Linked DNA regions of Homo sapiens: all the other regions are linked to region 2. The links come from fine-mapping of genetic effects on gene expression. A gene starts in region 2. Each other region holds a variant in brackets. All regions are shown on one strand. Distances are from middle to middle.

Region 1 (4,241 bases), 73 kb before region 2:
CCTCCCAAGTAGCTGGGACTACAGGTGCCCGCCACCACACCCGGCTAATTTTTTGTATTTTTAGTAGAGACGGGGTTTCACCATGTGAGCCAGGATGGTCTCCATCTCCTGACCTCGTGATCCGCCCACCTCAGCCTCCCAAAGCGCTGGGACTACAGGCGTGAGCCACTGCGCCCGGCCTTTTTTGTTTTGTTTGTTTTTTAAAGATAGGGTCTCACTCCAAGCTGGAGTGCAGTGGTATGATCTTGGGTCACTGTAGCCTCGGCCTCCCAGACTCAAGCAATCCTCTCACCTCAGGCTCCTGAGTAGCTAGAACTACACTATACCCAGCTAAGTTTTCATTTTTTGTAGAGGCAGGGTCTCACTATGTTGCCCAGGCTGGTCTCAAACTCCTGGGCTCAAGTGAGCCACCCACCTTGGCCTCCCAAAGTGCTGGGACTACAAGTGTCAGCCACTGTGCCTAGCCCCATCAATAGAGTATCTCTATGTCAGTGAGAACCTAACAAAGAGGATTCATATCAGAATATATAACAATTTTCCAAGTCTACTGAACTCACCTAAAAACAACCAGCTTTACATTCCCTCCTTAAGATGCTTTAAACAAGCAAGGACAGTCCACTAATTAATCTTGAAGTCATCATAGTTAATATGCTATATAACTTCAAGCCACAGAAAAAATTCATCAAGGCACCCCTCCCATAACCATACTCTGCATGATTTTTTTTTTTTTTTTTTGGATATGGAGTCTCATTCCGTGGCCCAGGCTGGATTGCACTGGTGCTATCTCGGCTCATTGCAAACTCCGCTGCCCAGGTTCAAGTGATTCTCCTGCCTCAGCCTCCCGAGTAGCTGGGATTACAGGCGCCCATGACCACACCTAGCTAATTTTTGTATTTTTAGTAGAGATGGGGTTTCGCCTTGTTGGCCAGACTTGGTCTTGAACTCCTGGCCTCAGGTGATCTGCCCACCTCGGCCTCTGAAAGTGCTGGGATTACAGGTGTGAGCCACTGCACCCAGTCAGATTTTGATTTTTAAACTATAAAAGAGTTCATCTTTTGGCACATGAGAGAGTAATGGAAGTCTGACATTCCTGGAGAGCAGTGACTTTTTTCAAACCAGGCTTGTTGGTTGCCCATGGAGGTGATTTGGCAGTCATGGGGAAGCTAAAGGGAGGTTAAGAGGGGCAGAGGCCCAGGCTCCCTCCTCTTGTTTCAATAGAGCAGATCCATTTTTAATTTACTTATATGCTAGAAGGTTCCAATTCCTTAAAAAGGTTTGGCAACCAGTGCTATCAAGTGAGAACACTGAAATTTCTACAATTCTCAAAACCTCAGAATATTATTACCAAGAGCATATACCTGCAATATCTTGCCCAAGGTAAGAGCACCAATGGTTTCTCATGACCTCAATGGCATCCAGATCATCCTTGGAAATGTCATTATTAATGATAAGGTGAATGCAGGGGATGATCAGTTCATTCATCACATTAATGCCCTCAGTTACGGAGTGATCATCATTTGTTTCAAAAAGAGAAGCTGCTTTGGCATTCAGCTCCTACAGATAAAAGGTAGAATTAGGTGGGGAAGAGTCTGAAAAAGATAAATATCTCTTTAATAACAGTCTAAACAAGTGGTTCCCAAACTTTACTGCACATTGGATGTACTTAGGGATCTTTAAAAACTACTGATGCCTGGTTCCCACTTCTGATAAGCTGATTTAATTAGTGTTTAGATGACCGGGACACTGGGATTTTATGAAAGCTCCCAAAGTGATTCTAATGCTGTAAAGTTTATGACCCATTGGCCTAAACTTGTAAGTCAAGGTCATGCTTAACACCTGTTTCAACCAAAGACCTGTTCACTGGTTGTCTATCTCCTCTGAGCATCAGAATCACCTGCAGAAGACACACTGATGCCCAGGGCCCTTCCCAGGGATTCTGGTTTAATTGCTAGGGAGAGGCCTGAGCTTCACGACTGTCTGAAAGCTCCCTATATGATTCTGATGCACACTAGGGGTTGGGACTCAATAATGGAAAGAGTCTAAATCCCTATAATTGCATTACTTCAGAAGCTGAGTAGGATATTCAAAATGTCAATCTATTTGGTGATTTAAAATATAAAAACATGGCTCTAATAAAATTCAGATCCATCAAACCAACAAGATCCCTTTTCAGCTTCAAAGTGGCCCTGCCACACCTATAACTAATACAGATGTCAAAGTATAAATCAGAAAATAAAGCTATTGAGTATATGTCATGACTTAATCTCACCCATTCGGTATGAACAAGGTAAAGGCAGTGGTAGAAATATTGGCCTGACTTCTGTGAAGGGCAAATTTGCTGGGTATTGGTGAAAACACA[C/T]ACAAGCCCACACTCTGAAGGCAGGCCACCCCTTTACAGTTCTCCAAAGGACACACATCACATAAACCCCTGGGGAGGCAAGGGGATGTAGGTCTGCCTTTCCATGTAGTTATACAGTGCAAATCAGGCCAGGAGAGAGTTAGTCTTCACTAGTATGTGACAATGATGTTATCAGAACAGCAGGACCAATTCTTACAGTTCCTACCTTTATTTTAAAAAAATGGAGTGTCAGAAGTCACTAAAACTTTAAGTCTACCAGCTTAAATGTGAACATGGAAAAAATGCTGCATTCCTTCCACACACATTTATTACATGGTTCCTACATGACAGGCACAGAGGAAATGGCTGAGTGAGAAAAGGATCTGAGCTCAAGGAATTTACAACCTAGTAGGAAAGCAATGTGATAAAATCTATAATGCAGGCATACATGAAGGGCACACAGAGGGATGACTGATTCTCATCTTAACTTCTATCAGTTATCATTGAAGAAGAATGACATTCACTAAAAGTAACTGAAAAAAAACCTGTTCCAATGTAAAACTGTTCATGAGAATTTTGGGGGGAAATCTACAACCTGTTGGAGATAGTCTGTTTTGAAAGCCATATATTTTCCTGGCTTCAAGGAGCAGAGGTAAACAACAAAAAAACCTTAAGGCTTTACAAACAGTACAAACCAGAAGGCATTTTCTTCGGTATAAAGCAATCACGGATTCTTTGACCCCCCGGCGGGGCCCCTTCATCAGCAGGGCAGCATTGCTCTGGTAGGCATATACCAGGTAGGAAAGTGCCTCTTGGTACCTTAGAAAAATGGGAGATAAACAACAGCTGAGTGCTCTTTTACTAAAATCTAGGGCTTAGACCTCACTTTTCCCCATTTCAAGAACCTACTTGGCTGCAATTCTGAAAAAGTGAAGGACCAAAGACCGTAGCCAGTCTCATCTCTTCTACAAATTGGCCTAGCCATCCAAAGCAAATATGAAACTTCCCTAGGCCTCAGGTTTTCCCATCTCTAAAACAAGAAATGCTCACTAGGGTCTATGTCAACTCAAAAATTCATTTTCTGAGTTCATCTTCATTGATCACAAAGACAGCCTGGCACAATATTATCTCGCAGCTAATACATCTAATCATTTGAAGGATGAAAAACCATGTGTGATGTTTAGAGCAAAACCAAAGCACTGCAAGAGAAGAGGCACACTAGTGTATGTGACAAGGGAGGTTATGCATGGCTGTGACTCTTAGTATTCCCAGGTAGGCATCTACAGAGAACAGCATCCTGACTAATAATCTTGGTAAAATAAAAGGCCAACATACTTTCCTTTTTGATAGAGTTCTAGGCCTGTTAGGAGATACACAGACACTTTTCGGAACAAACTATAATCTTCATGCCACTTCTGAAAAAGAATGACGATTATTAATAATCATGATCATAATAGATTGTTAGTGTCCTTCCCATCTAAGTTTTAAATTCATTACAAATATTTACTGAGCACATCTGGCTAGCCACAAAAATAACAAACAAAAGCTTTCAGATAAAAACCTACTCAACATTTAAAATAAAAGTCTACCACTGACCTTAATTTTCAATGTTCTGTTCCTTTCACTTGAGTAACAGAAGTACTTATTTCCTACGAGCTTCGGATTTTATCCTAATTTCTAACAGCTATGTAAAAGATATTCAGCTCTAGCTTAAGTGAATGACCTCTTTAGGACTGGTAAAACCATCCAGATATTGAAAATATGGAAGGACACGGACATTTCTAGTCATACAGAGCAAGTTCAAGTTCAGTAAGTGTGGTGAATACACCTTGGGTGGTACATAACATTGTTTTACATGGGATGCAATTGAAAACATGTGTAGCTATGTATTTTAATGCGTATT
Region 2 (4,241 bases):
ATGCCACTGATTAATAGGCACATGGTCTTAAATGACTGAGCCACGACAAATTTAAATATGACTTCTCTCTCCCTTAAAATAGTCTCTTCTCTAAATCAATATGATAGTCTCCAAACTAAAATTTTCCCATGTTTTTAAATCACTGTGCTAAAAACAAATAGAACTGACCTCTGAAGCCAGAGAAAAATCTTGACACATTTCAATAGGCACTTGTGAACATCTAACAATATTTCCATTAGAAGTCAGTGCATGATACTTTCGTTTCGGAGCCCAGGACCTGGAAGTATCTTTTTCTACATGAGTTTTAAAAAGCGCATCCAGGCTGGGCGCCCTGGTTCACGCCTGTAATCCCAGCACTTTGGGAGGCCGAGGCGGGCGGATCATGAGGTCAAGAGACCGAGACCATCCTGGCCAACACAGTGAAATCCCATCTCTACTAAAAATACAAAAATTAGCTGGGCGTGGTGGCACGCGCCTGTAGTCCCAGCTACTCGGGAGGCTGAGGCAGGAGAATCGCTTGAACCCGGGAGACGGAAGTTGCAGTGAGCCGAGATCGCGCCACTGCACCCCAGCCTGGGCGACAAAGTGAGACTCCGTCTGGAAAAAAAAAAAAAAAAAAAGTGCGTCCAGACTGGGCGCGGTGGCTCACGCCTGTAATCCCAGCACTCTGGAAGGCCGAGGCGGGCGAATCACCTTAAGTCGGGAGTTTGAGACCAGCCTGACCAATATGGTGAAACCCCGACTCTACTAAAAATACAAAAATTAGCCGGGCCGGTGGCAAGCACCTGTAATACCAGCTACTCAGGAGGGTGAGGCGGAGGATGCAGTGAGCCGACATCGCGCCACAGCACTCCAGCCTAGGCAACAGAGGGAGACTCTGTCGAAAAAAAAAAAAAAAAAAAAAAAAAAGTGTCTCCATGCTAAATACTACTGGCCTTCCAGACAAAAGAGTAAAAAGGTATAAAAGGATTCTCACCTGAGGGTATCTGTCTGCCAGCTTTGTACGACAAATATAGTTTCTCATCTCCAAACTCGTATTTGAACAACTGGCACAGATTTCCCGTTTTCTCTTGAAAAAGTGCAGTACTTGAGGGGTGAGGAGGTGGTGTTAAGTTATAACATTCCGAAGTAACACTAGAAGACATGCTCAAATTGCCCTCTTCCCAAGTTTCTTCATACAGACATTAGCTTTTCTCTCAAACCAGGGTTCTTTCACTCTCACCAGATTCTTAGATCAGAAGTCCTTATATTGATTTCAATCTTCTTAGACATTGGGAACAGGAGATCATCATCAGTAGACTTTCTATTCATCACGCAGCTCCTCCCCCTCCTTAAAAATCTAGAGCGATGAAGGCAATAATTGGGGAGGCTGCGCTGTTTTGTTTTTAAAGCCGGGTTGGGAGGGAGGGAAGTGGTGGTAACTGGGACCCCTGGTCTTATAGAAGACGGTGATTAATTCCGGACTTTAAGTGAGATAACTTCGGTCTGCTTTAACCTTTTAAAAACGCCGCCATAAAACTGATTTAAAAGTCAAAGCAAAACAAAACCAACCAACGCTGCCGCTTTCGGAAGTTTCTCACCCCGGACGGGGCCCAGGAGGGCTCACCTTACTGATCCCTGCGGCGGAGAACCCCACGTCCAGCCCTTTATATTTGGTTTTCCAAAATCTGGAAATCCCCCTACAACTTCAGCTCGCCCACGGACGCGAAGATGCAGTCCTCAATCTCCGCGGCCCGAGCCCCGCAGAGCCCTTGGCCTTCTCACCCACGCTGGCGGGCGCACCCCCTGTCCCGCCCGGCCGGGGCGCCCTCCGCAGCCCGCAACCCGCAGCCCTGCAGGCCCCGCACGCTCCCCTCAGGGCCTGGAGCCCGCCCCCAGCTCCCGCTCGCCGCCGCGGAGCCCACCGAGCCGTGGCCGTCTGCCGCGCCGGCCGCGTCGTCCTGCTGCAGCTCCGCAGTCATGGCCGAGGCGCCCAGCCGCGGGTCACCGGTCTCCCGCCGCAGCCGCCGCCGGCCCAGCCTCTCAGGACTAGGCCCCGCCCCCGCCCTCCACCCCGCTCCGTCCCGCCCCCGCCCGCAGCGCGCGCCGGAGGCTTGGCCCACATGCCCCGCCCCCGGCATGCGCGCGCACGCAAGGCGCGCGGCCCGGGGCCGAACAGTTCTGCGTGCTCCCGCGCACGCCCGGCTGACCAGACGTCGGTCACGTGATCCCGGCCCCGCCTGTCGCTGTTGGTCAGCTTCACAGCCGGTGGAGGCTGCGGGCCGCGCTGCCAGTGTCCGGGAACTGGGTTTGCGAATCCTGGGAGCCGCGTTCCTGAGTCTTCTCCGCTCTCTGCCCTCAAAACCTCATTTGTAGGACTGACCTCCGGCTCCACCCTCCCCACGGGCGAGTTAAAACTGTTCCCCCGCCGTGGGAAACTGCCGAATGACCGTGGAATAAAGGATTTCCCATCAGGCTTTGTAGCCATTTCCAACTCCAATGACATGAAGAAGTGTTCACCATCTTTAAGGAGAGAAGGAGGATGAATGCAGTCGCTTGTCTAAAGCTAACCAAACGGACCAAAGCCTCCGTTCATGGGTGTCCCGCTTGGTGCCCTTAACCCTGATGCTCTTAACCTGGGCATGATAAGGAAAATTGCAGTTTTTCCATTTTCGATTTTCAGAAGTTCAAACTAAAATTTTGTGTTACTTTGTTACGTTTGAGCCAGATATTTACGATTTCATGTTAAAAGACCAGGTGCTCCTATTGAATTGTTTTTTGTTTGGTTGGTTTCGGTTTGTTTTTTTTTTTTTCTTTTTTTTTGAGACGGAGTCTCACTCTGTCCCCTCAAGCTGGAGTGCAGCCGCACGGTCTCGGCTCACTGCAACTTCCGCCTCCTGGGTTCAAGCGATTCTCCTGAGTAGCTGGGATTACAGGCACGCTGTACCACACCCAGGGTTTCACCATGTTGCCCAGGCTGGCCTCGAATTCCTGACCTCAGGTGATCCGCCCGTCTCGGCCTTCCATAATGCTGGGATTATAGGCGTGAGCCACCGCGCCAGGCCTGAATTGTATTTTCAACAACTGTGTGGGAATTGTGATTACTGAACCATGTTTCACATTTAAGATACAAATGTGTTATGATGGCAAACCCACTTGACAGGCTGCTGGGTGTCCCAAATCTGCGTAGAGGCTGAGTGTGGAAGCGCGTCTTTTAAGAGTAGCACCTACACCCTTGCCCTGGTCTGGTCTGACTCTCAAGCTACACTTTTAAGTGTGAATTTAACATGGACGGTGGCCTTTCCTATACTCCTGGCATTGTTGTCGCTGGGATTGTTATGTTTCACCTGCAGGCCTCCCTAGTCTGCATGCGGGCGCAGTTTTTGACAAAAGGAAACAGGTACAGGTCAGGTGCAGCTCCCAGGAGAGGCCAGATTACTCTCTGAGGCCTGAACTAGGACTCCTGCAACTTCCACCACCTGGAGATACAGGGATCCGCTTCCCCTGGCAGATTAACTGGCAGATTGGCATGGCTGCGGTGATACTAACTTGGAATCTTCCACATTCAACAGGCTGACTGTGTTTGTGTCTGCGAGTAGTAGGACATTTTATGTATGTGGCTCTGCCATTTTTCCTTTCCTCATGAGTGACTGTGTTTATGGCCTCAACCTGGGTGTCACTGTAGAACAGGTTGATTTCAGGTTGATGCTGGTTTTCTTTTTTTTTTTTTTTTTTTTTGAGACAGGGTCTCACTCTGTCACCCAGACTGAAATACAGTAGTGAGATCATGGCTCACTGCAGCCTTGAATTCCTGGGCTCAAGCAGTCCAACTGCCTCAGCCTCTGAAGCAGCAGGGACTTCATGCATGTGCCATGCCCAACTAATTTTTGTGTCTTTTTTATGGAGATGGGATCTCACTGTGTTGCCCAGGATGGTCTCAAACTTCTGGTCTCAAGCAATCCTCCTGCCTTGGCCTCCCAAAATTTGGGGATTACAGACATGAGTCACCACGCCCAGCCCACATTGATTTCTGAGTCTAGCTTATTTACAGCATTGCCTATTTCTACACTGCTAGAATGCTTTATTTACCATGTCTCTGGAGCAACCCTTATTTGTCTTTACACATTCATTTTAGGAAATTGCATGTTTATTGTGTGTAAGTGCTGTCAAAACCTATAATCCTTTGTATTAGTCTGTTCTCACACTGCCATAAAGAATTACCTGAGCCTGGGTAAGTTATGAAGAAAAGAGGTTTGACTCAG
Region 3 (4,241 bases), 93 kb before region 2:
TGCTCCAGTGGAGGAGTCAGATGGCTCCTTCCACCTCATGCTAAGACCTAGGAACCTGGTCATCTAGGACTGGCTTCTGCCAAGGATCTCTGGAATAAAGGAATGTCTGTAGACTCCTTTCTCACTCTAGGTTTGTTTGCTTCATTTTGGGGCTGGTGGTCACTGTCCCACTTATCAAGGATGTGATTGTCTTGATGATATGGTAGTCCTCATTTCAGAATAAAAAATCAGGGCACAGTGTCTAACAAATGTATTTTTCTGATTTGAGATTTTATTTAGATAAAAATGCTTTAAAAAACTCATAACCTTAATTACATATTTGATTCTTTTATTACTAAGGAAAAATATATTACAAAATTGCAACCATCAGAGAAAATCTAGTGTGAAGAGGCACTTACTGTTCTGAATAGGTTACAAAAATAAAACTTGAAGAAGGTACCTTGGCAAAGGAAAATGAATTATTGTTCCAGAACAGCATCTTAGGACAGAAATTCTCTTTGTGTCCATTTTCAGCCTCAGGTGTACCATTTGAAAGACAACTTCACAATATACCTTTGCTGTTTTATAGATCCTTAATATCCCAAAGGAGAGACATAGGCTTGTTTCTGCTACATTGTGAGGCGATGAGCAGTCTACTCTGTCTTCCCCACCTGAAGGTTAACAGTCAGTCTGAGTGAGTGGTAGGGTGACCAACCCTCCTGGTTTGCCCAGAACAAGGTACTTTTGGTGCTAAAACTAGGAAAGTCCCAAGCAAACTGGGACCCAGTGATTACCTTAGAATGACTGTGTCCAAATACTGCCCAATGTGGTCATGTATATGAAAGAAGTAGCTTCTCAGAAATGTCTTTTACCAAGTGCAAAATCACAGTATAAACTCCTTGAATTTTGTTTTGCTGTGTTTTTTTGTTTGTTTGTTTTTGTTTTTGAGACAGGGTCTCACTCTGTTGCCCAGCCTGGAGTGCAGTTGCATGATCATAGCTCACTGCAGCCTCAAACTCTTATTAGGCTCAAGGGATCCTCCTGCCTCAGCCTCCTGAGTAGCTGGGACTACAGGCATGAGCCACCAAGCTCAGCTAATTTTTAAAATATTTTGTAGAAATGGGGTCTCGCTATATTGCCCAGGCTGTTATCAAACTTCTGGCCTCCTCTTAAATTTTAACCTGAGTGTCAGCAGACCTACCCAGGTTGTGGCTACAAATCAAGTCCCTTCCATAACGATAACCTAAGTTCCTTTGCTTGCTCTGCCTGCAATGGCAGGCTCTCTCCTGACTACCCCACCTCAGGTCTTCCTCTGGCATTTCTGCAGGTCCTCAAGGAGGAGCCTCCTGTTGCTCATAAACCTGTTTGTCAGCTGCAATTATCCTGCAGCATCCACCTTGTTCCTCTCCCTGCCACCTGTCCTCCACTCCTGTAATCAGTTCAAGAATCACCATTGGCCCTGCCAACAATTCCCTCAGGAGAGCAGCTAAAGGGGATGGCTCCTAATGCCCTAAGTAGGTCACTTCTCCAGGTTCAGAGGCGTGCTGCATTCCTCACAGTACCAGGGACATTCCGCCCTCCCCAAGCTGGTGCTGTGCTTTGTCATCTCAGCTCTGAGGTCTCACAACGCCTCTCGCCTCCTGATAAAATAGCCCCAATATCACGAGATAGCCATTGCTCAAGCAAGAATACACAGACTATGACACAAGAGTAAAAAAATTTGCCAAAGTAGCCCAGGACAGTTCCCTCCTTAGAAAAATGCCATTTTTTTTTTCCTGCTGAAATGGAGTCTGCACAGGTGCAACTTCATCTTCTGCAACTCTTACCTTCTTACCCAGAGCAGATTTCTCTTGAAGTCACAGTTTCTCCAGAAAGCTCCTTCTCCTTTTATGCCTGTCCTTTTGTGTATGTCTACTTGGCACGCACAAATCAAAATGATCCCTAGGCAAATACAGCTCTGAGTACAAAGGGCCAGTTTGCATCAAAGGTGTATTCTGGCTTTCTGTGTCTGGTAAGTCAGAAAATGGTTTCCAATGTCTGTTTTATTAGCTACTCCTTCTCAATAAAGTTTCAAAGCTCTTTGGACAAAGTTTCAATCAGGGGTGAGGCTCAATTATCTAAGCATTTTCTTGACCTTCCAGGGTCTACATGAAAGAATAATTTCATTATTATTCATCCATCTGATCATTTATTCACTCACTTAACAAATATTTATTGAGCACTGACCATGTGCTAGGAACCAGTATAAAATGGTAAGACAAAATATATTCTTGTCCCTCATTCAGGCAAATTAGGGAGATA[AT/A]TTTTTTTTTTTTTTGAGACAGAGTTTTGCTCTTGCCCAGGCTGGAGTGCAATGGTGCGATCTTGGCTCACTACAAACTCCGCATCCCAGGCTCAAGCAATTCTCCTGCCTCAGCCTCCCAAGTAGCTGGGATTACAGGTGTGTGCCACCACACCCCACTAATTTTGTATTTTTAGTAGAGACAGGGTTTCACCATGGTCAGGCTGGTCTCCAACTCCTGACCTCAAGTGATCCACCCGCCTCGGCCTCCCAAAGTGCTGGGATTATAGGTGTGAGCCACCGCACCCAGCCAGGAGACAAATATTAATGTAAAATCACTCAAATAAACGTAAATAGTAACTTTGACAACCTTTACAAATTTGGAAAGGGACATGGTTCTATAAGATCATCCAATAGTTTAATCAACCTTTATGAATGTAAAAAAGAGAAAAATATATATACATAAAAAAATCATGCAATAGGAGGGATTTAACCTAGTCAGTGATTCACGGATCAGTACTCAAAGGAAGCGATTACTGGCTGAACAATAAAGGGTGGGTAGCAGTTCCAGATGAGGAGGGGAGATGAAGACGCATAAGGTGAAGCTGGCAAAGTAGGAAGAAGCCAGACCTTGTAGGGCCTTGTAGGCCTCAGTAAGGAACATAGTCTCTATTCTCAGGACCATGGGAAGCCAAGCACGTGGTCCGGGAACAGGAGCTTGGCTTCCAATTGACTGCAACAGTAACCTGCTCTCCTTTGTCTAATGACTTGTCTCTGTGAAATTTCCTTATCACATGGTTGTGTTGGGCTTGCAGGTGTACAAAGCACTTCTACAAATTTTGGTAGTTTTACTGAACATATCTTGAAATGTTTTTGAGTTTTGGAAGAGCAGATATTATTAGTTTTGCTACTGAGGAGAATGAGATGCCGAGAATTTAGGTGACATGCCCATGGTGAGTAATTAACTGAGTCAAGACTTGAAGCCAGGGTTTGGCACCATGGCAGTCTTTCTTCACCTTATCCTATGGCCTCATGGGATGGGTTGCCTAGACAATCTACCAGACCAAAGGAAAAACTCTCGCCAAAGGCCAGGCGTGGTGGCTCATGCCTGTAATCCCAGCACGAGGCAGGCAGATCACCTGAGGTCAGGAGTTCAAGACCAGCCTGGCCAACGCGGTAAAACCCTGTCTCTATAAAAATACAAAAATTACCTGGGCATGATGGCAGGTGCCTGTAATCCCAGCTACTCAGGAGGCTGAGGCAGAGGTTGCAGCAAGCCGAGATCGCGCCATTGCACTCCAGCCTGGGCGACGGAGCAAGACTCTGTCTCAAAAAAAAAAAACAAAAAAAAAAGCTTCTCACTGAAGTCGATGGAAAAACCAAAGACCGTCAAATAAAACCCTCCTTTGTGCTTATGTTGAGGTTTAAACAGGGTCTTTGTTGCCAGGTGGCTCACCTGCTCCTGCTGGTGGCTTGCAGCCCTCACCTGAATCCCGCATTTGCAGGTGCTAATATTTTTTCATCAGCAAGTGATTATGGCTTCCTCTGCAGAGAAATGGACACTAAAGATTTGTTAAGAAAATATTCTGTCTTCCCAACTCTCTTTATAAAGGACAAAAGGAATTTTTTAAATGGGTGTGGGTAGAAACTCTTGATGACATACTGGCCATGTGGCCAACAGCATGTCCTTCCCTGAGAGGGAATGTGATCTGCAGTCTAGTGGGAATCCACATTTAGAGAAAGAGTTTGAGGAAGGAGATGCTGTTCACCTAAAACTGCCACTGTTGTTAGCCACCTGCTTTGAAGGGGAAAATAATGAGAAATAAAAATAGAACTAATTAAATCATAACTTCAACACAGCTTTTTGTCATATAGATCTGTGGCAGATTATTCTCACATCAAAAACATTTCTTTATTGTGGTTACACATGGAGAGGTGTGTAGTCATATGTATCAGAAAGAGAAAGAAACATTAATCAATC

Which allele goes with the higher level. Positions count from the first base shown, and alleles are read on the strand shown. Sizes are in standard deviations (SD) of each study's normalised expression.
In carriers of allele C in region 1, the expression in sigmoid colon of the gene that starts at base 2,032 in region 2 tends to be higher than with T alone (small effect, 0.23 SD a copy in GTEx).
As copies of AT replace A in region 3, the expression in monocytes of the gene that starts at base 2,032 in region 2 goes up (large effect, 0.84 SD a copy in Quach 2016).

Evidence for each region. PIP is the estimated chance that this variant, and not a neighbour inherited with it, causes the effect.
Region 1: its variant is the best candidate, but not a certain one, in a credible set for the expression of USP28 in sigmoid colon (GTEx, PIP 0.56).
Region 3: its variant is the best candidate, but not a certain one, in a credible set for the expression of USP28 in monocytes (Quach 2016, PIP 0.90).

Annotation. Positions count from the first base shown.
Region 1 is chr11:113,800,125-113,804,365 of GRCh38, forward strand. USP28 (ubiquitin specific peptidase 28) reads right to left here. Exons shown (of 26, transcript NM_001346252.4): 23 at 3,674-3,753; 24 at 3,034-3,157; 25 at 1,359-1,554. Among named protein-coding and RNA genes, the nearest start is that of CLDN25, 22 kb to the left of the region's middle. The variant C/T (reference allele first, on the strand shown) is at 2,360.
Region 2 is chr11:113,873,541-113,877,781 of GRCh38, forward strand. USP28 (ubiquitin specific peptidase 28) reads right to left here and starts at 2,032. Exons shown (of 26, transcript NM_001346252.4): 1 at 1,905-2,032. The coding sequence starts at 1,961. RefSeq lists enhancers at 1-420, 2,007-2,301, 2,291-2,540, 2,591-3,252 and silencers at 1,731-2,090, 2,111-2,270.
Region 3 is chr11:113,780,419-113,784,659 of GRCh38, forward strand. CLDN25 (claudin 25) reads left to right here. Exons shown (of 1, transcript NM_001101389.1): 1 at 1-67. The coding sequence ends at 67. Among named protein-coding and RNA genes, the nearest start is that of CLDN25, 2.7 kb to the left of the region's middle. The variant AT/A (reference allele first, on the strand shown) is at 2,281.